Homo sapiens: one gene and its partners. The protein of the gene in region 1 purifies or fractionates together with the protein of each later gene. This does not show direct contact. Each region holds a gene or a part of one and is shown in the gene's direction. Other genes may lie near its edges.

Region 1 (2,935 bases):
CTTGATTGGCTATGTCTACAGCCTGGGCCAGTTCCTCCTGGCTGGTGTGGCCTACGCTGTGCCCCACTGGCGCCACCTGCAGCTACTGGTCTCTGCGCCTTTTTTTGCCTTCTTCATCTACTCCTGGTGCGTGGGGCCTAGGGTTGGAGGTGGTTGCCACAGGAGCCCAGAGGCTGCAAGGGACAGGACATCTCCCAGAGCTCAGCACACATCCCATCCCACAAATGTAGAGAAGGTCAAACCCAGTCCAATGCCTCTGTGTGACAGATAGGGAAACCAAGGCTGTGGGGAGAAGGCTTTGCCCCAGGATATCCAATTCTCTGGCTTCCCCCACTCCGTTCTCCAGCCTGCCTGCTCTGCTCCCCCTACCCGCAACCAAGAGCTGAGCTTCTGGATTGGGGAATATGTCATTACCAAGCTGGGCACTGCCTCGTGGTCCTAGAGAGAGGGATTTGGCAAGGCCCCTGGGTTCCCAACCTTAAATAAAATCCCATCGCAGACCCCTAGAAAGCCCAGCCCCAGCCCCCCACCCAGCTGACTGGAACTGAAGCCATGCTGACACCCACCCCCACCCCCGCTCCCAGGTTCTTCATTGAGTCGGCCCGCTGGCACTCCTCCTCCGGGAGGCTGGACCTCACCCTGAGGGCCCTGCAGAGAGTCGCCCGGATCAATGGGAAGCGGGAAGAAGGAGCCAAATTGAGTATGGAGGTGAGATCCCCTGAGACTTCCCATGATAACCTCCCAGGGCTTCACCCCCAAACCCCAAACCCAGGACCCAGGGCCCAGGGAACTCCTCTAAGTAAGGGATTAGGCTGGGAGGAGCTCCTTGGGAGGATCCCGGGCCCTGAGCTCTGCCGGTCCCAGCAGGTACTCCGGGCCAGTCTGCAGAAGGAGCTGACCATGGGCAAAGGCCAGGCATCGGCCATGGAGCTGCTGCGCTGCCCCACCCTCCGCCACCTCTTCCTCTGCCTCTCCATGCTGTGGTAGGCCCAGAAAGACAGACAGACTGAGACAAAAGGCTGGCTGGGGCAGGAGGAGACACAATGGGTGAAAGAGGCCAGAGAAGAGGGCAGGAAGGTCAGCAGACCTGCTGTGAGAAGCAGTAACCCCACACTAGGGATCATCCTTAGGAACCAGATGCCCCCAGCCTTGACTCAGTCCCAGTCTCCACACGGGACACCAGTCTCCCCATCTTGTCCTTTCACTAGCCCTGTTCCAATGTGGAGACACCTCATCAGGACCAGTGGGCTCCAGAGTCAATAGACTTACATCATGAAGGCAGAGACCAGTCTGGCTTGCAAAATATTCATAGATTTTACTGGCCTGATGGTGCCTGCCAGAAACACAGGCACAGGCAACAAGATGACTAAAACTCATCTCCAAAGAACACTTTGGCCAAGGCCAAAGAAAATCTTCCTTTCCCTTTGCAACACTCCCCATTATCCTTCCTTCCCATCACCATAGCAATCCCATGACAGTTAAGGGAAACATAGTCAGAAGGAACAATCCTGCCAATGAATTATTTGCTTCCAATTTGGGATTTATTCTCAGTCATGGGCTCTAGCCAATAATCTTGAGCTTCGTTTTTTGGGCTCTTGACATCTTAAAAAGCACAACACTCATCCCAGGACCATGGACAGGTCCCAGAAGGCTCTCTCTACTCTCCCAGCTGCCTTGGCCCTGAAGATGGCTTGGGTATGCACCTGCCCTCCCTCAGTCCAGCATCAATTGATAAGATGAAAACTAAACCTATGTAAATCCTACAGAGCAACTAAGTGAAAATTCCCCCAATTAACTGCAACCCTAGTTATCAGAAGATTGGCAAATTTGGAGTATTACAGGACTACCTCAATACTTAAACTCTGCAGTTTAATGATATGGTTAAATGAAGAAATATTAGCCAAGGCAGATTCCAGCTCCTTAAGCAGGGTACCCAATGCAGTTCCCCCACTGTTTTGAAAGAGCACCCCACTTTAAGCCTTCCTAACAAACTCCATACTCCTCTCTTCTCTCTGCTAGGTTTGCCACTAGCTTTGCATACTATGGGCTGGTCATGGACCTGCAGGGCTTTGGAGTCAGCATCTACCTAATCCAGGTGATCTTTGGTGCTGTGGACCTGCCTGCCAAGCTTGTGGGCTTCCTTGTCATCAACTCCCTGGGTCGCCGGCCTGCCCAGATGGCTGCACTGCTGCTGGCAGGCATCTGCATCCTGCTCAATGGGGTGATACCCCAGGGTGAGCACCCACGAGCACCTTGGCCCCTTCTCCTCAGCCCCATCCCCACACATAACCCAATATCTCAGAAGGGAGGGGGCCAATTCCTCCTAGCCTCCACTCCCAAGCTCCTGCTATCCCCCCTTCTTTCTCTCTAGACCAGTCCATTGTCCGAACCTCTCTTGCTGTGCTGGGGAAGGGTTGTCTGGCTGCCTCCTTCAACTGCATCTTCCTGTATACTGGGGAACTGTATCCCACAATGATCCGGTGAGTGGGAGCCTAATGGGAGAATGACAGCCTTTTCCTGGGGAAAGACATTCTTCTGTGCACAGGTCAGACCCCAGAGCTAAATCAAGTACATCCCAGCCCAAAGGCCCCTCCCAACACTCATCATTGCAAGGCACATAGTAGCCACTGAGTACACACCTCATGGCCTAGCTAACACAGGTGTTACTGTCCTCTAAGCCCTTACGGGACCCTAGAAGATCTCAAAAGTAGCCACCAACTGGGGCAGGGTAAGGAACCAAGAAGACACATCTCAGAGACAACAAATTGAAGTCTTCCTTTAATCTCCAAAACACAAATTAGAAGCTGCCACCACATCTACATTCCATCTATAAACCAAGTGATATATCTGAAAGCAAAGGCCACAAACATGAAAGCAATTTCCTATCTCAAGATTCACTCCTGATAATATCCCAGCAATAGGAATAAATATAGTA
Region 2 (3,500 bases), on another chromosome or scaffold:
CTCAGTTGACTTTCAAAAATCTTAACAGTCTAGTGACCAGGCACGGTGGCTCATGCCTGTAATCCTAGCAGTCTGGGAGGCCGAGGCAGATGGATCGGGCAGATCGCTTGAACTGGGAGTTCGAGACCAGCCTGGGCAACGTGGCGAAACCCTGTCTCTGCCAAAAATACACAAAGTAGCTGAGCATGGTGGTGCATGCCTGTGGTCCTAGCTTCTCGGGAGGCTAAGGCAGGAGGATCACTTGAGTCTGGGAGGCAGAGGTTGCAGTGAGCCGAGATCATGCCACTGCACTCCAGCCTGGGTGACAAAGTGAGACCCCATCTCAAAAAAAAAAAAATCTTAATAGTCTAGATATAGAAAAAAGGTGAAAATTATACATATATAAAATGTTTGGGGGGGGGGTTACGTGCATTGGAACTTTCACATAAGGGGGTTAGTGACAATCAGATTTATGTAAGAATGATGAAATGTTTGAAAAATTCTGTGATGACAGATAAACATTATACCATAAATTTGTTGAAATCATAACACAGTTCTAGCTTTTAGTTTATGTTCTGTGGATTTCTTGTGTGTGTTTACGGGTGTTTTTATATATGTATGTATGTATGATTGTTCCTCCAAATCACCCACCTCATTCTGGATATTTACTAATCAGATTAGGTTTAGCTCTACTAGAAACTTACCCTTAGAGTGAAAAACTACTTGATGCCAATGATGATCTGCGGGATAAAAGCGAAGCAATGAGAGACTGCACAAAAGGAGACCGCTCCAAAAATATTGCGCAATGATGGAGTCACTGGGAAAAAAAAGACTGTCTACTGCAGGCAGAAATGTACACTCCTAAGCTAGAGGCTAATTGTTTGAATAAATATAGCATCTTAAAATTTCCTTTCATAAATAAAACATAGTGATAGAAGAAAGATGAAGCCCAGGAGTGCTATGTGAGCACTTAATCTGACACGAAGGAGAAAATCACAGAAAGAAAGCCTTCTTATAGAGAAGTCACCTCATTCTCCCAAGAAGCTAGGACCACAGGCATGTGCCACCATGCCCAGCTACTTTTTGCATTTTTAGTAGAGACAGAATTTTGCCGTGTTGCCCAGGCTGGACTCAAACTCCTGAGCTGGAGTGATCTGCCTGCCTCAGCCTCCCAAAGCACTAGGATTACAGGCGTGTTCTTCTGGACACTCATGCCCTCTGTCTGCTCTGTATGCCTATTGGGTGATTTGCTCTACTTGCCAGCTTTGCTGTAAAAAGACGAAAAAAAAAAAAGGGGCAGTAAGTATAACTGCTTATGCGAGTGTGCATTTTGGTGGAGGAGTTTTATAAATGATAGACAAAATTCCCCTTTAGGCTCTATTTAATCTTTCAGATAGTAAATCCAGATTTGCCCCCAGATGTAAGACGTCATGTGACTAGTAGCTTGTGACTGTGTAAGTCATCGGTTTCACTTTATGTATGGATAGGATTACACGCAGAGGTGAAAGGTGAAACGCTGGTTAAGAGTACAAGTTTCAAGTTTGCTCTGTGCTTCCATACAAATATAATAGAAGCAGCTTCTGTAGAATTTCCTTAGCAGTAAACCAGACGTGTTCCAAGAGAATAACAGTAATAAAAAAATTTAGGTTAAAAATCTTAGAGTTAAGGCTTAAAGTACTGCCTAAATGTCACTAAGGTACACTTCTGAGCTGGCCTGCAGCTAACTTCAGATCTGACTTTTGCTTGAATTGCAGTCATCCGAATTTCACTAGGAACATAGGCAAAAGATAACTTTTGCAAATAAATTTCATCATTTCACCTTTATGGCAAATAATGGATTTCTAATATGAAACTTTAATAATATTAACATATGGGAATTACATTAACATGTGACTAGTTACACTATCATTGGAATTTTAACCAACTGCTTCCAAATACAGTTAGAGAATTTTATAATTATTTGATATAATGGGGATAGCTGGGACTGAATGTCACTTGGACATTCAAAAGATCAATACTTGAATTAAAGTTAACACTTATCTTGGGAGTGGAGGTAAAAAATAAATAAAAAGCTTGTTTCAGTGCTATGAAAGATGCCTGTAAATAGCACAGCTGTTTTAGGTTTCTTGTTGTCTGAGAAAGGGTTTACAAATAAGGAAAAAGGCTACAATGAACCTCATAGCATTGGATTGGATTAGACATTAATATGAGCTTCAGGTTTCATATGTGTGTGTGTGTAAGAGTATATGCATATATATATGTGAGTGTGTATAGATATATGTATGTACACACACATATGTGTAAACAGATAAAGAAGTTGATACAGATGCATGTGTGTATACATACGTTTATTTACTAGCCATACCTGCTGAGAGGGCTTAAAAGGAATGACACCACAGAACCAATTAACTTACCTCGTGCTCAAAATTCGGTTTTTAAATATCATTCTCCAGTAAAAAGAATGGGAATCTCTAGAGAAATGCCTGATTTTAGGACGGGTGGAACAAGTCAAGTAAAGATGTGCCTGAGATATTTTGTTGTGCAAGAAACTAAGGAAATGCTTACAAAATGATGGGGACATGTGACAAAGATACAGGATACTGCCATACAAGCTCCAAACATGTAAGACAATTTGAGCAACAAACTAAATAATTACTGTAATGGGTTCAACTTATAGAGTAAACTAATAATCCATGATAAAAATGAACAAATGAATAAAGAAATGGGGGAGAAGGGAACCTCTTTCTTTTTTTATTTTTATTTTTTTATTATACTTTTAAGTTTTAGGGTACATGTGCACAACGTGCAGGTTAGTCACGTATGTATACATGTGTGGAACCTCTTTCTAACAGTAGAATTCCAGCTAATAAATGTAGAAGGAATGGCAGAAATAAAAAAGTCACCATTAAACACCACAGTGATGATTGTTGTAGGGAGGAATTAATTGATGATAACATTAGTGGGGAAAAGTGCGGTGAGAAACAGGATATTTACATATTTGCACTAAGTACAAAGGGAAAAATAATAACTTTTCTGTGGAGAAACATGGCAAAAACAACTTGAAGCAGTGTGCTTCCTGATAAACTGTGCAGGGTACATCACTTGTGTTTTATTTCTGCCAAAAATACATACGTTGAATTTAATGATAAGGAAACATCGAACATCACAGATGGAGGTATATTCACCGGCCAGTGCTCTCTGAGAGTGTCAAGGTCATGAAAAGCAAGGAGAGTGAGGAACTGTTCGAGAGTAAAAGAGACCAGGGCGACAACAGTGAAATATAGCTTATGATCCTGGATCTGAAATAGGGCATTGAGATAATTGATGCAATTTGAGTAAGCTTTTTAGGCTAGCACTGATACAACACTATTATGTAATTTCCTGATTTTGATAGTTGTATTCTGGTTATCTAAGATGTTAACATTTGAGAAATATGTGTGAATGGTAGGAATGTTTACTTTTTTTGCAATGTTTTTGTAAATCCAAAATTATTTAAAAATGAACAGTTAAATATATTTAAA
Region 3 (3,500 bases), on another chromosome or scaffold:
AGTAATCTTATTTTTTTATTTCTATTTTTTTTTACTTTAGAACAGCTGAATAGATTTGCTGGATTTGGTATTGGACTTGCAAGGTAATGTTTTATCTAAAGACGTTTACAGCTTTTATTTATTGAATTTAGAGTTTTTCTTTAATTTACAATATTAAATGATTATTATTGCTTCCTTTAGGTTGTTTCTTTGAAGCAGCAGCTTAAATTTTGAATAATATTTTGCAGAAAAAAAATGACCATTATTTAAAATATATAATTTGATAGTTTTTCCAGTAAGGATAGACTAGTCATCCAATTTTATAAACACAAAGTAATTTTGTAATGAGTATTGTAACTGTTTTCATGGGTCTATCCAAAAAATAAAATGAAGTGTAATCTTATCTCTCTCCCATCAAAATAATAATTTAGAATGGGGTTCATGAAGATCAAATGGCTCTGCTGATAAGAACTTTTTTCATAGGACATTTTCTGAAAGAAAAATTACATGGCATTTAATGATGCCATGTAACTGACGTGTCATTTCCCACATCAAACATACAGTGATCTAGTTTCATTTTATACCGTAGATATTAATATTGTGTATTATATATTGTTTCCCTTACTTACCTGTTTGCAGATCTGGTTTTCATTCTTTTCATGGGTCTATCCAAAGAATAAAATGAAATGTAATCTGTCTGTCTCCCATCAAAAAAGTAATTGTGCATGGAGGCTTCTTTCTAAACACTCTAATGCTTACAAGATATTTAGCAACATAGCATCTAGATTTTGTTCATAATCAGCGTTTGGTGATAGCATTACTTTTTTTTATATCTAACGATCATTTTAAGAAAATCCTTTAGTCTTGATTATTGTGATCCTTAGTGAATACCATTTTCAAAAATATTGGAATTGCACAAAGCTTACATTTCATGCCATAATGATCATTATTTTAAACATTTTAACGAAGAAAAACACCTTATTTGCATAATTAAACCCGAGGGTGTTAATGTCAATATAAATAAAATCTGTGTTTTCCATTCTGCTGGAGTTGTTTTTTGCTTCAATATTTATACTTAAAGCTTTGATTCATTTGATAGACTATTATTACATATAAATATGTGTGCACATGTATGTATATGTCACTCTGAGACCTGAAACCCACAGCTGTAATTGTTTTGTGGGGCACATTCTCAAAATAAATATTTGATACATAAATATTAGTCAATTAACATGGTCATTAAGAATCTTATAATTTAAGATTTATACTTAAATTTATACTTAAACCTTATAATTTAAGTGCACCAAAACCAAACATTTTTAGAATGGGGTTCATGAAGATCAAATGACTCTGCTGATAGGAATTCTGTTATTAGGACATTTTCTGAAAGAAATAATTTGCAGCATTAAATGCCATTTAATTGATGTGCCATTTCCCACATTAAACATTCAGAGATCTAGTTTCATCTTATACTATAGACATTAATATTATGTATTATGTATTGTTTCCCTTATTTACTAGTATGCAGATCTGGTTTTCATTCTTTTCATATTGAATTTCGTTATGGGTAGAATCATTTGCAAACATTTCTAGACATTTTTAAAGATCTATTTAATTTGTTTAAGAATGGAAAACATAAAATAATGCATGATTCTTCAGGCAAGAATAATTTCAGAAAGATACCTGTTGTAAATTTAATTTATCTCTATGTAGACATACATATACATAAATTATTTTTATATAGTCTCTTTACAGAAAATGTATTGGCACATCCTTGCATTGTTCTACGCCGCCAATGTCAGGTAAATGTAATTTCTGTGATCTTTTGAAGCAATACTTCTGACCCTAATATGAAGGGCAGAACTCACATAAATGACATGAAACCAGGTAATTGTTACTTCATGTGAAATGTTCCAAACTTTTTGGTCTCAAAACCTCTTTAAAGTCTTAAAAAAATATTGAGGATCCTAAATAACTTTGGTTTATGTTGGTCATATCTATTGATAGTTACCATTTCAGAAATTAAAATTGGGAAAATTTCAATGCATCTATATAATTCATTAAAATAATAACACCTGTTAGTAAGATAATATGTTTTTATGAAAGTAACTATTTTGCATTTTTGCAAATATCTTTAATATCTGACATAATAGGAGAGAGCCAGTTTCTCTCGTATGCTTCTGCAGTCAATCTGTTGCATCACGTGGTTTTTGAAAGAAGCAAGGAAGTTTAGTCTTGTACACATGTATAGTTGAAAGCAGGAGAGGAGTATATTATATTCTTTTGAGATAATTGTGGGTATTCTTTGCAATTGCACCAAAACTCACTGTGTCGCAGTTTCTTAAAGGTTATTTGCAATGTGAAATCAGAAATCATTTTAGTGAACTTTTTATACTTTGTTACATTAAAAAATCCATTTAACTATACTGCATCTTGAATAGATATTTTTACTTATGCCTGATTCCATGTAATTGTGCATAAGTTATTTGAAAAATATTGACCAATTGAGTTACATAGATCTTCCTGTTGTTAAAACATTTGATTATAAAATATCAAAAAATCATCTTCATTAAAAATACTACTGATCTCACTAGAAAAGTCTATAAGTATTGTCAGCTCTTGACGATGCATATAGATTTTCCAAAATTCTGAGTTTTAGTTGAAAATTCAAACTTATCATTGACAGTAAATACTGTTATTTATTTTTGTTTTAATCAACAATCTCACTTTGTTTATTTTTTAAAATATGTCTGTCCTGAAAGTGAATAGGTATAGTCCGTCAATGAGTTTTTCTAAGTAAAAATGATGTTCCGTGAAAAAAGTGGCTAGTTTAGCTTGCAGTTCTATCATACAAGTGCTTTCCTCATGACAGCAATCTTACTTCCTTATGTAACACACAGGATATTAATTAGAAAGAGGATGTGTACTCAAAGGTCAAGGATTCATAAAATTAACATTTTGTTACTTCATTGTCAAGGATATTACTATATGAAGGTTGCTTTTTTCTCTCTATGGGTAAATGAGGTGAAAAATTACTGTAAGTACGAAAATACAGTTTGATGGTGCTGCCTCAATTTGTGCTAATGAGCTGGGAGTTTTACCTACCATTGCTTTTGTACCATTAGTGAAAATGTCAAGACAGTGAAAAAAGGAAATTATATCTTAGTAATCACTAGGAAAATAATTTTGAACTTGTCAAGCCCCTGAAAGGGTAATGGGGCCCTCAGGAGTCAGTGGACCCCACTTGCAAACTCTGTTATAACCCACTTTTTTTTTTTGTTTGTTTGAGACGGAGTCTCGCTCTGTTGCCCAAACTGGAGTGCAGTGGCATGATCTCGGCTCACTGCAAACTCCGCCTCCTGGGTTCACGCCATTCTCCTGCCTCAGCCTCCCGAGTAGCTGGGACTACAGGAGCCCGCCACCGTGCCCAGCTAATTTTTTGTATTTTTAGTAGAGACGGGGTTTCATCGTGTTAGCCAGGATGGTCTCGATCTCCTGACCTCATGATCCGCCCGCCTCAG
Region 4 (3,918 bases), on another chromosome or scaffold:
AGACAGTAGCATGTTAACATCACTGCATTGAGTTTTTGTCTGGTGTAAAGTATGACTTTTAATGTAAACAAACTGCAGGTTTTTTTCAAACTAATTTTAAGAATTTAGTCTTATTTCGTTGTAAACTGTGTATCTAATTATATTACATTACTCTGTTCAGATGGGATGGTTACTACCACTTGTCCATGATTTTCATTTGAAAAGCAAGTATCTATATCATTTCCCCCCAGTCAGCATTATTTAACACTCCCCTTAACTGTCTTTGAACTTTCTCTTTTAACAAAAATGTCAAGTCTTTATAGTTGTAATATCACCATGTTTCCCATTTCTGTTAATACTTCTATGAACCCCTAAAGTATTGAAGGGAACTAGCTGTCAGTTTCAAGGATTACAAGTTTGAGTCTCCTAGTATTCAACATCATTCTGAACCCTGAAATAATATTTTTCTCTGTTAAACAATTTTTATCTGTTTGCCACCTCTGTTGTTAGAGGTGGTTGTCAATTGACCTTACTAAGTTAGCTGTCTTTGATGAGGAATTATTGTTATTGGTTCCTGAATAAAACATTAACCTTTTAAGTCAGAAGGAACCTCGGTACTTCTTAAGGTTTGTTTGTGTTTTCTAAAACCAGAGAATAAGGAACTGATTTGGCTATGAGGTTTAACATTATAATTTTCTGTAAGCTTTCCCACAAAAAAACATTGTTGATTTGAGGATATAATAATGTTTTAATCTTTTTAAAATATAAGTGGTTATTCTCTGACTTGGTAACTATGTTCTGAAAACACTGCATTTAAGAATTTTTAAAAATTGGTTTTCTAAAATTAAAATGTCCAAATTAGGCATATTGCTGAGCTCAAATTGATGTGAAATGCCATGGTTCCAGTTGAATTTTAAGCATATTTTCATTTAGATATAAAATATATGAAGTATGCTTTGTTGATTATAGTGAGAACCCATGACATAGTTAACCAAAGAATATGTTTGGTTCAAATAAAAATAGAAGCTTAATACTGGGCATTCATACTTTTTAAAGAGAATGAATGAAGAAATCGGTTTCCTGCTGTAGTTCTCTATGGGTAAGTCTTAGTAAAGACGAGAATGCTGAAGTCGGCCGTGGCGATTCCCTCCTAGGAACTGGGAGGTGTGGCTTGCCCATTACCCGCTTGAAGCTCACATCTTTACCCTCCTCTCCCACTGTGGTTTGATCTTCACCTATTCCCAGGCCCTCCCAGCAATTGGAGAGGTGTCTTTTTTTTTGGTTTTGGTTTTTTTTCTCCCCGTCTGCATTCTTAGGCCTCTTAGCTATTAGGAACTGTCAGATACATACTAGTAGCTAATTTTCCTAGCCTGAAATTATATACTGCATCTGCACTATGTACCTACTAGGGATCTGACCTCAAGTGTTTTCTGAGCCCAGGCTTCCTGGTGTGGTGTCTTTTACCACATAAAATTATTACAAATTGCAAATGTTGGTATTGTGATTTGATTATCTGTACAAAGAAAGAAGCTCTATGCAGTGAGTTTGTGGTTTAATGGTCACAAAAATGTTAGCACTGCTACCACTCAGCACGTGTAAAATTTTTTAAATTTATAAATATTAAAATTTTAAACTTACACTAAGACTTTTCAGTTTTATTTAAAGACCCAGGGATGAGTGTACTGTTTAAATATTTACCTCTATTAACATAACTAATGAAGGTATAAAATTGCATTTAGTTTTTCAGAAGATGCTGCAATATGATTTTAGGAAATAAGGCTATGTATTGAGCCAGTTATAGGCTGAATATCAGGTTGATAAAATTTTATTTGTATTTTTAAAATTCATAAATGGGAGTTAAAATGTGTCTTTTCACTAAATATTTTTATTACATTTTTGTTTTGACCATGTGTGATTTGTTCATGGGTATTTAGCTAGACTCTTTTATGAAATGCATTGAAATGGTGCTAGTTTGTTTACCATTATAGGAAGATTGACACTGGGGACATTACACGGTCCTAAAATAATTTTAAATTTAAAAAAATGAAGACATCTGTACAGATAAAAATCAAGATTTGCATCACCTTCTGGGAGAACCCGTGGTACTCACAGAATATCCAGTATTAGAAATATAAAAATTTTGTCTATATTTTATAATATTTATCTCAGCCCACAGTCTTAGAAACAGTTTCACAGTTACTAGTTAAGTCATTATCTTTGGTGCATATTTAGTAAATACTTTTAGCAAGTCATTCTTTTTGGCCTTTCAGGGAAAGTGGTGAATTACCATATTACTGTGTGCTAGATAGATCCACCCTTTGCCCAGTGTTAAATCTTGTAAACATATGAAGTGAAAAGTTAATTTTTAAAGAAAATGCATCTTTAAAATGTTCATTTTTAACCTGAATTTGCTTTGAATATTCTTTGATTTGTAATGTTGTTATTTAGCTTATATTGAGATTTATTCCACTCCAAAGGTGGATAAAGAAAAGTTGTTTAAGAAAACCAATTAGAGTGTATTTTGAATTTTTGTTTCTTTCATTACCAAGTGTGGGGCCATACACACAGGCTAATCATCTGTCATTTGAGACCCACAGATGATTTCAAAGGTCCCAAATAAATACACATCTATAACTGTTTTTTAAAAGACATCTTTAATGGTGCTCTCCAAAAATACAATTCGGTTGCTTATGAGTGATGCCTTTGACAGGCTGATTAGATTATAAAACAGTTTTGTTTTTTTAAACATAGGGTCTCAGATTGAGTCTTGTGCATTCTATGTAATCTCAAATGGCAGTTCAGTTTGACTTTCTTTTAAAACTAAGTGGAAATGGTATATTTGGTGAAACTAATGAAAGAATCTTTTGCTGGGAAATTCCATACAGCACCCCCAGCAGCATCCTGTCTCAGTCTGGCGTATAATTCAACCTCCTACTGAGTGTCCCTGTAAATTATTTTTAATATATAGCATGAGAGTGAACTGAGGTAAGTCATTGATGTTTCCCAGAGATGATGAATGAACAAAAGCAAATAGGATCTGCTAAACATTTTTATTCCCACAGTAGTGAGCAGTTTTGTTCTTGTTTTGATAATGTTCATTTCTGCCTAATCTTAGGCTTCAAATACACCTTTAAGAAAGCCCAAGATGTATTGAGTAGTAGAACTTCTTATTTGTACACCTGTTTATAACTGCACTGCCCTGGATGTTATGGTTATTTCTAAGGACTGACCTGGTAAAGCTACTTGAACTGGTAGACTGCAGGGTAGAGGCAGACCTAGATTCAATGTCTAACTAAGCTGCTTAGGGCTTACATTAATTTCCACAGGTCTGTTATCCATATCATGAGTTTATAAGTGTTCCTCCCAAAGAAAAAATTTAAAAGTGATGGATGAAATATAATAGTAGATGCTCAATAAATTCCATTGTATTTAAAGATTATTTCTGAAAACAGATTTCATTTCATTAGACAAATGTATCATAACACTAAGTCTGATACCTAATAGTCAATTGCTTTTAAATACATGCTGTAATATCTTCATATTGATACTACGTTATAGCCCTAACCACAACCACCCTAGGGATATTGGGGTAGACTTCACCATATTATTTACTGTACTTTTTTTTAAAAAATGAGAAAATGGATCTATTTATGTTAACTATCTTAGTCTGTTCTATTTAATTCAACTATCTTACTCTGTGCTATTAGAATACCTGAGACTGAAGAACAGAAACTTACTTCTTTCATTTCTGGAGGCTGCCCTTTGACTTCCATCATGTGGAAGAGGCAAGCAAGCCATCACCAGATGGTGGCGAGAGAGAATCAACTCCCTCCTTCAAGCCCCTTTGTAATGGGACCTAATTTTATTCATTAGGGAGGAACTCTCTTGGCCTAATCACCTCTTAAAGGCCCCACCTCTTCATACTGGCACATTGGCAAC
Region 5 (3,500 bases), on another chromosome or scaffold:
AGCCAGCCCTTAGGGGTCCCTTCTTCCTTCGTGCTCAAGTCACTACTGCCTGCCCACCCCATTCATTTGGCATTTATGTGACTGTAACTGTGTTCTGTGTGCCCCTCTAGTCTTCAGACCTCTTGAGGAGAGGCTACTGTGTCTTTGTATCCTACAGAGCACTCAGCACAGTTGAAAAGCTCTTCAGGGGGCTGGGCGTGGTGGCTCACGCCTGTAATCCTAGCACTTTGGGAGGCCGAGGTGGGCAGATCACCTGAGGTCAGGGGTTCGAGACCAGCCTGGCCAACATGGCGAAACCCTGTCTCTACTAAAAATACAAAAATTAGCTGGGTGTGGTGGCTCATGCCTATAATCCCAGCTACTCGAGAGGCTGAGGCAGAAGAATCACTTGAACCCAGGAGGTGGAGGTTGCAGTGAGCTGAGATCACACCACCACATTCCAACCTGGGTGACAAGAGCAAAAAAAGAAAAAGAAATCTCAAAAAGAAAAAGAAAAGTTTTTCAGGGGACTCTTGCAATTGTGGCATCATGATCCTTCACACCTGCACTTACTGGACGCCTCCTGTGTACACAGCCCCTTTCCTCCTGTGCACAAGGTGGCCTGTGTTAGGACAGAGGCTGCAGCTCCCCCTGACCCTGCCTCTCCCCTGTTTGCATCTACAGGTACCCAGACAGCCATTGTCTTCATCAAGCAGCCGTCCTCCCAGGATGCACTGCAGGGGCGCCGGGCGCTGCTTCGCTGTGAGGTTGAGGCTCCGGGCCCGGTACATGTGTACTGGCTGCTCGATGGGGCCCCTGTCCAGGACACGGAGCGGCGTTTCGCCCAGGGCAGCAGCCTGAGCTTTGCAGCTGTGGACCGGCTGCAGGACTCTGGCACCTTCCAGTGTGTGGCTCGGGATGATGTCACTGGAGAAGAAGCCCGCAGTGCCAACGCCTCCTTCAACATCAAATGTGAGAGCCAGGGGGGCTGTGCCCAGTCCCCCTGTCAGACCCTCAATGACTGAGGCCTGGGGGATCCCTCCCTTACCTCAGCTTCTCCCATTTCCAGTTAAACGGGCCAGGCAGAATGCATTTATCATCAGCTTTTTTTGCTCATGTGGATAAGAGGAAATTAAAAGTTATATTTTTTCCAAAATTTTTTCCTTCAAGTCTGGGACCCATTTATCTGCTGCATGCTTGTGCAAATGGAAAGGGCGGCCGAGCCCTTGGCCAAGTGTCAGACTTGACCTGCCAGGGACCAGGCAGGCACTTAGTATCTGGTAACTGTAGCCCCAGCCTCAGCCTCCAGGGCTTCCTTGTGTCTGTTGGCACAGAGCCTCGAGGTTCCACGGCTTCCTGCTTGTCCTCCTTGCCCTCTGCCTTCCCGCCTTTGCCCTGCTCTGCCCCTCACTGCAACCGTGGCCTCTGCTACAGGGATTGAGGCAGGTCCTGTGGTCCTGAAGCATCCAGCCTCGGAAGCTGAGATCCAGCCACAGACCCAGGTCACACTTCGTTGCCACATTGATGGGCACCCTCGGTAAGGAGTCAGGGAGGTGGGGATGAAGAGGGTTATTCCGGACAGGGATGTCTCCCCAAATCTTGGACTCTATGCGGATGTTACCTCGCTCCATTCTGTGACCACTCGTTCCACCACCACAGTGCTCTTCACCCTGCCCTCCCCCAGATATTGCCCTATGCCGGCCCCTGGTGGCCTGAAGAGTGAGCCACATTGTGTGTAGAGCTGGGAGATCTAATATCAACTTGATTCTGCCCCTGAATCAGAATTACTGTGTGCCCTTTTGCAAGTCCCTTCCCTTCCTCAGGCCGTTTCTCCATGTATAAACTGAAAGGTCTAGCCCTGACCCTCTGATACTGTATCCTCTCCACTGGCCACTGAGTACCCCTCCCCACCACTGCTGACTGTGTCTGCCCTGCAGGCCCACCTACCAATGGTTCCGAGATGGGACCCCCCTTTCTGATGGTCAGAGCAACCACACAGTCAGCAGCAAGGAGCGGAACCTGACGCTCCGGCCAGCTGGTCCTGAGCATAGTGGGCTGTATTCCTGCTGCGCCCACAGTGCTTTTGGCCAGGCTTGCAGCAGCCAGAACTTCACCTTGAGCATTGCTGGTGAGCCTGGGGTGGGGGCGGAAGGGATGAGGTGAGCACAGGAGGGCCTCACCACCCAGGCTGCATGCTCCCCCATCTTTCCCTCTCCAGATGAAAGCTTTGCCAGGGTGGTGCTGGCACCCCAGGACGTGGTAGTAGCGAGGTATGAGGAGGCCATGTTCCATTGCCAGTTCTCAGCCCAGCCACCCCCGAGCCTGCAGTGGCTCTTTGAGGATGAGACTCCCATCACTAACCGCAGTCGGTAAGGCATCTGGCTGGGAGCATTCCAGTACCATGTACCACACACATGCATTCTGTAGAAGGGGGTGCGATTTGTATCACAGACATCACAGATTTGTACATGTATTATTTCAAATTTCCAAGAGACACAGTTGAATGTTTTGCTTTTACAAGATGAGTCTGACACAGGGAAGAGTCTCTGGGAAGAGCCCTTTTCCAGTTTGCACAAAGGCACTCTGAGCTAGTGATGGTTCCACTTCTCTCTCCCCACCACCCACATGGGTCTTCTGGGATGGAAGGGTAGAGACCCCAGGGATGAGAGAGACACAAGAGACCTAGGTAGTCAGGTGGTCATAGTCTAGATAGCGTGATCCAGTGTGGCAAAGACATCACACACACACACACACACACACACACACACACACACACACACACACACTTTTTAGAGGAAGCAAACACCTCTAGAAGGTTCCAGCCCTACTGCAGGGACTTCTGTTCTTGCCTGGACCCTAGGAGAACATAGAACACCTTTGCAGTGTCAGGCACGACCATGGTCCTTGGGGGTGTGGCTTCCTAGGCTAGGGGCTTGGATGCCACTTGGCTTCAGCCCTGAGGACATCATCAGTAGCCTGCCTGGTATGGCTGAGGGGTATCTGACCCTGGAGCTGGGTGCCCTATCAACGTGGCCCTGTGGGAAGGTGGCTTCCCTGTCTTGACAGTTGCACATGGTGGTTATTCTGTGTATTAGTCCATTTTAATGCTGCTGATAAAGACATACCCGAGACTGAGCAGTTTACAAAAGAAAGAGGTTTAATTGGACTTACAGTTCCACATGGCTGGGCAAGCCTCACAATCATGGCAGAAGGCAAGGAAGACCAAGTCACGTCTTACATGGATGGCAGCAGGCAAAGGAGAGAGAGCTTCTGCAGGGGAATGCCTCATTTTAAAACCATCAGATCTCGTGAGACTTGTTCACTATCATGAGAACAGCACGGGAAAGACTTGCCCCCATGATTCAGTTACCTCCCACTGGGTCCCTCCCACAACATGTGGGAATTATGGGAGCTACAATTTAAGATGAGATTTGAGTGGGGACACAGCCAAACCATATCACTCTCTCTCGCACCTGCATTGCCATTTGCCTCATTGCTTCCCGAGCTGATCTCCTGTAGTT
Region 6 (3,500 bases), on another chromosome or scaffold:
ATATAATATTTTTCTTGTAATTTTATTCAACTTTTAATTATATCTGGGTGGATCATATTCTCTCTGGAACATTGACTCCAGAATGACACGAGTTATGCTGGAATACAATTTGAGCTAAGCACAGAGATTGAGAGCGTACAAATACATGTCTTTTTGCATTCGCATTTCAGAGCCAGATAGGAATAAATTTTGGTCTTTTTATTTATTTATTTTTTTGAAACAGGGTCTCACTCTGTTGCCCAGGCTAGGGCTCAAGTGATCTCAGCCTCCTGAATGCTTGGGACTACAGGCACGTGCCACCATGCCAGGCTAATTTTTAAAATTTTTTGTAGAGATGGCGTCTTGCTATATTGCTTAGGCTGGTCTTAAACTCCTGGCCTCAAGTAATCCACCTTTGCCTCCCAAAGTGCTGGAATTACAGGCATAAATCACCATGCCTGGCTTGCTCTTTCTTCTTATGAATAGTCTTACCCTGTACATTTTATGTTAGAAAATATCAAAGCTTATAAAAAGTCTTCAAATATTACCTTTGACTGTCCAGCTTTACATTTTTTAACGGCACGTTTTCTGCATCAAGGAATGGTATAGCAAGAATGAAGACATAACTGGGTAATGAGGGTTGGGAAAGAGGAAAAACGTAGGGAAAATAATTTGATGAATAGTTCAGAGCTTAGCAAAGCCTCACAAGCAAATAGATTGACCTTCTGTCTCACTCATAAGATAAACCATCTTGGCCACTTAGAAAGGCCACCTAGCTGAGAAGTGTCATGCTTGGAACAAACTGAGAAGTACATACAATGTGAAATGAACTGCTTTTTCATTTGTATCCAAAGTGATGGGGAGGTCAGTTGATCCTGCATGTATGTGTGTATACATAACAATTAGTCAATTTCTAATTTAAAAATCAAATTTAAGCTCTTAAGACTGAAACAATGCCGGCACAGTGGCTCACGCCTGTAATCCCAGCACTTTGGGAGGCTGAGGTGGGCGGATCACCTGAGGTCAGGAGTTCGAGAGCAGCCTGGCCAATATAGTGAAACCCCGTCTCTACTAAAAATATAAAAATTAGCCAGGTGTGGTGGTGCATGCCTGTAATCCCAGCTACTCGGGAGGCTGATGTGGGAGAATGGCCTGAACCCGGGAGGCAGAGGTTGCAGTGAGCCAAAATTGCGTCACTGCACTTCAGCCTGGGAGACAGAGCAAGACTCTGTCTCAAAGAAAAAAAACAAAGGACTGAAACCAGAGACATTTAAAATTTTTTAATATATGATCTCTAAATTTAGAATTACCCAATAAGGAGCATAGTGATTATTTATTTAAAAATAAACAGCTTCCTGAGGTAATTTTCTTACCAAATGTACACATTCGAATGTAGTATTGGCTGTGGTTTTTTTTTTCATTGATGGTGTAACTCCCTGTGTGAACTCAGTTTACAATTACATTAAAGATTGAATGTACTCTTTTCTTTAGAAGTATAATGGTTTCTTAATTTTTTTTTCAGACTGTACAATTTGTTCAAGGAATTTTTGTAGAAAAATACGATCCTACGATAGAAGATTCTTATAGAAAGGTATATATTACTTTGGAAGGCCTTTTGCTTTTGATTTTAATATAAATACTTATTTTAGCTTTATAATTATTGAATGTTTTATACAAAGGATGGAGGCAGAGTTAATTTATAAAATTAGTGGGAAAAGTTTACACTTTCTGGCATTGCATAGTTACCAGTTTAAGAGGATCATAAACACCCATACTCTCACATATTCACAGAATTTTTTGTAATTTGACACATAAACTTTAAAGCAGACCATCCATTTCAAGTAGTAGCCCCATGTTACTTTCAGTCCCCTACCTAGCAAGACTGATTACTCTCAAGCTCCCTTCTTTTTAACCTAGAAATAGGTGGACACAGGTCTTCCTAAGCTTTCTACTTACTAACCTCTTGAGAAAGTGCCACCACTCACAATACTGGTTGAATATCCCTTATCTGAAATAACTGGGACCAGAAGTATTTCAGATTTCAGATTATTTTCTGATTTTAGAATATTTGTATATACATAATGAAATAGAATGGGACCCACATCTAAACAATTCATGGTTTCATATACACCTCATACACATAATCTTACATAATATTTTTAATATTCTTATGCATGATACAAAGTTTTGGCTGCATTTTGACTGTGACTGGTCACATGAGCTCATGTGTGGAATTTTCCACTTGTAGCGTGATGTTCCACACATGGCTCAAAAACTTTTGGATTTGGAACATTGCAAGTTTTGGATTTTTAGATTAGGGATGCTCAGCCTATAGAAAGGTGAATTCCTGTGTCCACTAACAGCATGTGACAATAAAACAATGTGTAGACATTTTTAACTTAGTAGGGAAAGAGGTATTTCCCAACCTCTATGAAGCAGCCAACCTGGCCCCGCTGTTGCACAAATACTGTGTTTCCATTCCTCCCTCCATGTGCATAGTCTACCAAAAAAAAAACTGGAAACTTTTGCACCCCAGCTGTGAGACAGTATTACTCTTTTCTTTCTACATCTAATTCTAAATACCTATTTTTCCCTAGGAAATATTAGATGGAAAGGGGTAACAGGGATATATGTGTAATTTATTTAATAGCTGTGCCACTGCTTCCTTAATTCCAGAAATCTTGTTCCAGTATGGTGAGGGCATATAGTTACCTAGAGAAATGAGGTATATCTAAAGTATCATGGGAGAATTTAGACAGAATTACTTATGATACTGTTGGAACTGTTGCTGGTTTTGTTTGTTTATTTGAGCTATTTCGAAACTATTTTTTTCTCTAGAATTAAGTGCTGAGAATCCATATTGAGACTGGTTCGTGTAGGTTTCCCTGTGTTGACTTGAGAACACATGGCTTTTGAACTTGATTACAATTTGGGGGTCTTTGAATCTTGATTACTTAGCTATTTTTCCTCCTGCTTTGTTGAAGTATTGCTGGATATTAGTTTGTAAAGTTGTTAAAATCTGTGTGTCTTATTTTTGATACATTAGCTTTTTTGTGTATATTAAGGTAGTTTTATGTACATTGAAAAAATGAACATGTATTTTAATTTTTCTACCAGCAAGTTGAAGTAGATGCACAACAGTGTATGCTTGAAATCTTGGATACTGCAGGAACGGTAGGTAAAACTAAATACCAAAGTATATACACCGTTTGTACAGTATTGACTTCATAAATGCTAGTACTCTATAGACAAATATTAGTTAAGCTTATTTAAAAGTACTGCTTGCAGCCGGTTGTAGTGGCTCACACCTCTATTCCCAGCACTTCGGGAGGTCAAGGTTGCTGGATCACTTGAGGTCAGGAGTTCGAGACCAGCCTGGCCAACATAGTGAAACCCCATCTCTACTAAAAATACAAAAATTAGCCAGGTGTGGTGGTGGGAGCCTGTAATCCCAGCTACTCAGGAGGCTGAGGCAGGAGAATCTCTTGAACCCAGGAGGCAGAGGTTGCAGTGAGCCAAGA
Region 7 (3,500 bases), on another chromosome or scaffold:
CCTTCCTTGAATAACTGCCCTCCATCCTCCAAGTTAAGCAGTTTCTTCTATTTGTACTTGGAGAATATAAAGAAGAAAAATAACCTACTTGGAGCTATTTTCTCTGAAATAACACTTTCAGAGTCTAATTCAAACATTTCTCTTCAGAGATGGTATCTATAGAATTTTTGTATTCATTCTAATGATAAATTATAAATGCATGCTGGAGAGGATAGGAGAAAAAATAGAGACCCTGGAAAAGAGTTACTCTTCATATTTATAATGTTAAGGATGTAATATTGCACTTTGAATATTAGGAGTATGACTCTGAAAATCTAGAAGGAAATATAATAAAAGCAATGACCAAATCACCATAATATGTTTAATATGCTTGAGCTGTGTGAAATTACAAATGTACAAAATTCTGCTTAAAGCATCAGGTATTTGTTTTGAAAGATAGTGCTTGGCAAATAAGAAACAAGGAGTCACATAAGAAACAAAAAGTCATGATGATAAAAGTACACATTGAAGATTTTTACAGTTAAAAATTTTTTTAGATGAATAGCTAGAGTTCAATTATGCTTTTGATGAAAAGTTAAAAGGTATTCAAAGGAAAGAAGATATTGCCAAAAAGAGAGAAATTAATTTCTAAGTAAATAACTACAGGTTTAATTCTGCAATAACTTACCTAGACATCACAATTTTGAATTTGAAACAATGAAGACTGCAATCTGCCAATGAAATATTTATTCAGACCATAAAATGAGTGATCAAAGTTTAACATTTTTTGAGCTTTAAATATTATTATCTTATTAATTCCTGTGAAAGTAGAAAAATGATTTATATTAGTGTCGGGTATCTAATTAACTGATGACTGCCCAAACATTACAATTGCATTGTCACAAATAATTTGCCTTGCATTTTATTTGTGTGTGTGCATTTGCATGTGTAATCTCAATTGTGTATTTCTTAGATTAATATTAAAATTAGTTAGCAATCCCTGAGCTGACTCTCCTTTCAGACAGCTAAAGACCTTGAAAGCAAGAAGCCAGCACAGGATTAACAATTTGTCATGGATAATCCACAAAGTAAATAAACCTAGTGTGAATAATTGAAAGTGGGTTAGACATGTAACATAGGAGCTATTGAAAGTTAATTCAAAGCCAAAGTTCTCCATAATAAATTCCCTCTCATTATCCAACTGCTAGAATAGACTGGCATTGATTAAATCTCTAAATAGAGAGGCATTTGTGCATTGTCAATGTTTTACCACCTTACCTGCAAACATATAGACTTTATCTTCTTGACAGTGTGCTGATAATATAGAGGCTTGAGCAAACCAACAATTTGAAAACGTCACCATGGGTGTTTAGCCCCCTTTCAACTTTCAAGAAAAAAAAAAAGAATCAAAACATTTTCTGCATTTTACCAGATGTCGTTTCTAAAATTCCTATGCTGAGATGGTAGCTTACATAAATACCATGAAAATGAATTCACTAATTAAAAGGACTTGTGTGGTAAGCTATTGTTAAAATAACAAGGGATTAATAATAGCAAATTGAATATTTGAATTACTTATAATACTGTATTAGCATTTTTAGCCTAATAATCTCATCCAGATAATGGTCACTTTCCCCCCAATTAAAATTGTACATGTTATAGATTTCGGATTTGCAAGGTTCTACCAAATTATACAAGAATTTGTTACTTAATCCAGACCAAGTATTGTTAATTAGATACTAAGATATTAAATATGTTCCTTTTTTTCCAGCTACCATGACATTTTATTTTCATAATATGACTGTAATTGAGTTGGAAGTATTTTAATCATAATTTTATATGGGCTTCTTTTTCTGAATATGTTTCCTATTTTTCTAATTCTAGGTTTCATATACACTGGAGAAGTCGTACATCGAATGCTAACAGCCACACAGTACATAGCACCTTTAATGGCAAATTTCGATCCCAGTGTATCCAGAAATTCAACTGTCAGATATTTTGATAATGGTATGTGTTGAGTAGCCTATTTTTTGCTGCATGTATATTTTTAAACCTCAAGCATCAGATTCATGTTAATGTTTTTGTAAACTGTTTATTTTTTGGTGTGTAAACTGCTTGATGCAAATGGTCTGAGAGGACAAATATTATACTGCTAAGATTTATAAAGTACACAAATGGCATTCATTCATTCAACACATTTATTAACATCTACTATACACAGTAAAACTGAGTTGCTGTAGACAAGACCTCAGACAAAGCAAACGCATTTATTTGATGCTATTTCAATAAGTCAGTTTTCCAATTTTCCCATCAGAAAAAAATGGAAATAAGAATAATTTTGTTAGTTCTGATCTTCCAGTTGAGGCAAGTGCCATAATATATTGACATTAAATTTCCAAAACTTATGACTTGTATGTATCAATAAGATGAACACATATTTTAAGAAGTATAAAGTAGTTAGTTGTGGGTAGTTCAACTGAAGAAAATAAAGTTTTCTTGACTTTAGAAAATGAGTGAGAGCCTGTCAAGATTTATCAAATATACCAAGAGCAATGTATCCCTGCTATTACTTTTTGGGACATATAAAATAGAGAAAAAAACTATAATAAATCATTAAGTGGTGCCAAAATCCAAGCGAGAAATTCAAGGTCTTGGAGACATAAATGAATTTTCATCTCAACATCTTATTGAAAGCTGTAACTTTGGTAGAGAAAATAAATTATAGGTAACAAAGAGTTTATATTGCAATGATTAAATATAGAATTTTCTGTGTATTTATCATTCAAAAATGATATTTATTTGTTTAAAAGACAATTTTATGCCTGCAAATAATACAAGCATTTGGGGTGAACAGAGTTATTTCTACTTTTATCTTATTTCTGATGATCAAGGAAGAAATTTGCTCATGGTTGGAATAGACTTGATGGTAGCTGTAGCCTTGGAGAAATATGATCACTTTGCTAAGAGCCATCTCCTGACCAGTGTGATGAAAGCCATTTTACAGGTCAAAATAGCACAATGAGGAAACTAAACATAGTTAGACATTCACCTTAGGAAATACACGTTGAACATCTTGAGTAACACCAAGGTATGATCCAATATTAGGTAACTCTAAGTGTTAGCTGCAATAATGATTCATCTCTGTTATTTTAAGAACTATTATATTCTCTTCTCTTCCATTTTTTAAAAACTCATGAGGTGCTAACACCCAAGGATGTGCAAGTGGACTGTAAGTACACTATTCTTGAGGCAAAACTGCAGCCAGAAACTTATCTGAAACTTATTCTATGATTACCATGCAAAATTGCCTTGGGAGTCTATCCTACGGAAACAATAAATGATTTAGTGAACACTGACTATTTTCCAAACTCCGACATTCACTAGGTGATGTTAGGGTCATTTACTCATGGGCACATGATTCTAATGACCAAGTTTTTATACTGTTGCTATCAAAATCATAAAGCATATTAAATAAGTCTCTCTTCATATATTTTCATATACCTTGTTCCTAGGTAGCTCTT

The links.
Region 2: the proteins of SLC22A6 (region 1) and RAB32 purify together in Homo sapiens (affinity purification with mass spectrometry; one large-scale study listed by BioGRID and IntAct). This does not show direct contact.
Region 3: the proteins of SLC22A6 (region 1) and SLC25A46 purify together in Homo sapiens (affinity purification with mass spectrometry; 2 studies listed by BioGRID and IntAct, with this or other methods). This does not show direct contact.
Region 4: the proteins of SLC22A6 (region 1) and XPO4 purify together in Homo sapiens (affinity purification with mass spectrometry; one large-scale study listed by BioGRID and IntAct). This does not show direct contact.
Region 5: the proteins of SLC22A6 (region 1) and PTK7 purify together in Homo sapiens (affinity purification with mass spectrometry; one large-scale study listed by BioGRID and IntAct). This does not show direct contact.
Region 6: the proteins of SLC22A6 (region 1) and RAP1B purify together in Homo sapiens (affinity purification with mass spectrometry; one large-scale study listed by BioGRID and IntAct). This does not show direct contact.
Region 7: the proteins of SLC22A6 (region 1) and PLXDC2 purify together in Homo sapiens (affinity purification with mass spectrometry; one large-scale study listed by BioGRID and IntAct). This does not show direct contact.

Annotation. Positions count from the first base shown.
Region 1 is NC_000011.10:62,979,033-62,981,967, reverse strand, and holds part of SLC22A6 (solute carrier family 22 member 6), read left to right. Parts: coding exon 1-126; intron 127-584; coding exon 585-708; intron 709-864; coding exon of another isoform or gene 865-867; coding exon 868-983; intron 984-2,019; coding exon 2,020-2,234; intron 2,235-2,371; coding exon 2,372-2,480; intron 2,481-2,935. UniProt on the Homo sapiens protein: Secondary active transporter that functions as a Na(+)-independent organic anion (OA)/dicarboxylate antiporter where the uptake of one molecule of OA into the cell is coupled with an efflux of one molecule of intracellular dicarboxylate such as 2-oxoglutarate or glutarate.
Region 2 is NC_000006.12:146,550,333-146,553,832, forward strand, and holds part of RAB32 (ras-related protein Rab-32), read left to right. Parts: intron 1-3,500. UniProt on the Homo sapiens protein: The small GTPases Rab are key regulators of intracellular membrane trafficking, from the formation of transport vesicles to their fusion with membranes.
Region 3 is NC_000005.10:110,742,007-110,745,506, forward strand, and holds part of SLC25A46 (mitochondrial outer membrane protein SLC25A46), read left to right. Parts: intron 1-40; coding exon 41-83; intron 84-1,723; coding exon 1,724-1,781; intron 1,782-3,500. UniProt on the Homo sapiens protein: Transmembrane protein of the mitochondrial outer membrane that controls mitochondrial organization.
Region 4 is NC_000013.11:20,776,829-20,780,746, reverse strand, and holds the end of XPO4 (exportin-4), read left to right. Parts: 3' UTR 1-3,418; downstream 3,419-3,918. UniProt on the Homo sapiens protein: Mediates the nuclear export of proteins (cargos), such as EIF5A, SMAD3 and isoform M2 of PKM (PKM2). In the nucleus binds cooperatively to its cargo and to the GTPase Ran in its active GTP-bound form.
Region 5 is NC_000006.12:43,128,314-43,131,813, forward strand, and holds part of PTK7 (inactive tyrosine-protein kinase 7 isoform a precursor), read left to right. Parts: intron 1-663; coding exon 664-951; intron 952-1,413; coding exon 1,414-1,516; intron 1,517-1,916; coding exon 1,917-2,107; intron 2,108-2,197; coding exon 2,198-2,348; intron 2,349-3,500. UniProt on the Homo sapiens protein: Inactive tyrosine kinase involved in Wnt signaling pathway. Component of both the non-canonical (also known as the Wnt/planar cell polarity signaling) and the canonical Wnt signaling pathway.
Region 6 is NC_000012.12:68,648,899-68,652,398, forward strand, and holds part of RAP1B (ras-related protein Rap-1b isoform 1 precursor), read left to right. Parts: intron 1-1,501; coding exon 1,502-1,570; intron 1,571-3,096; coding exon 3,097-3,153; intron 3,154-3,500. UniProt on the Homo sapiens protein: GTP-binding protein that possesses intrinsic GTPase activity. Contributes to the polarizing activity of KRIT1 and CDH5 in the establishment and maintenance of correct endothelial cell polarity and vascular lumen.
Region 7 is NC_000010.11:20,141,432-20,144,931, forward strand, and holds part of PLXDC2 (plexin domain-containing protein 2 isoform 1 precursor), read left to right. Parts: intron 1-1,863; coding exon 1,864-1,986; intron 1,987-3,500. UniProt on the Homo sapiens protein: May play a role in tumor angiogenesis.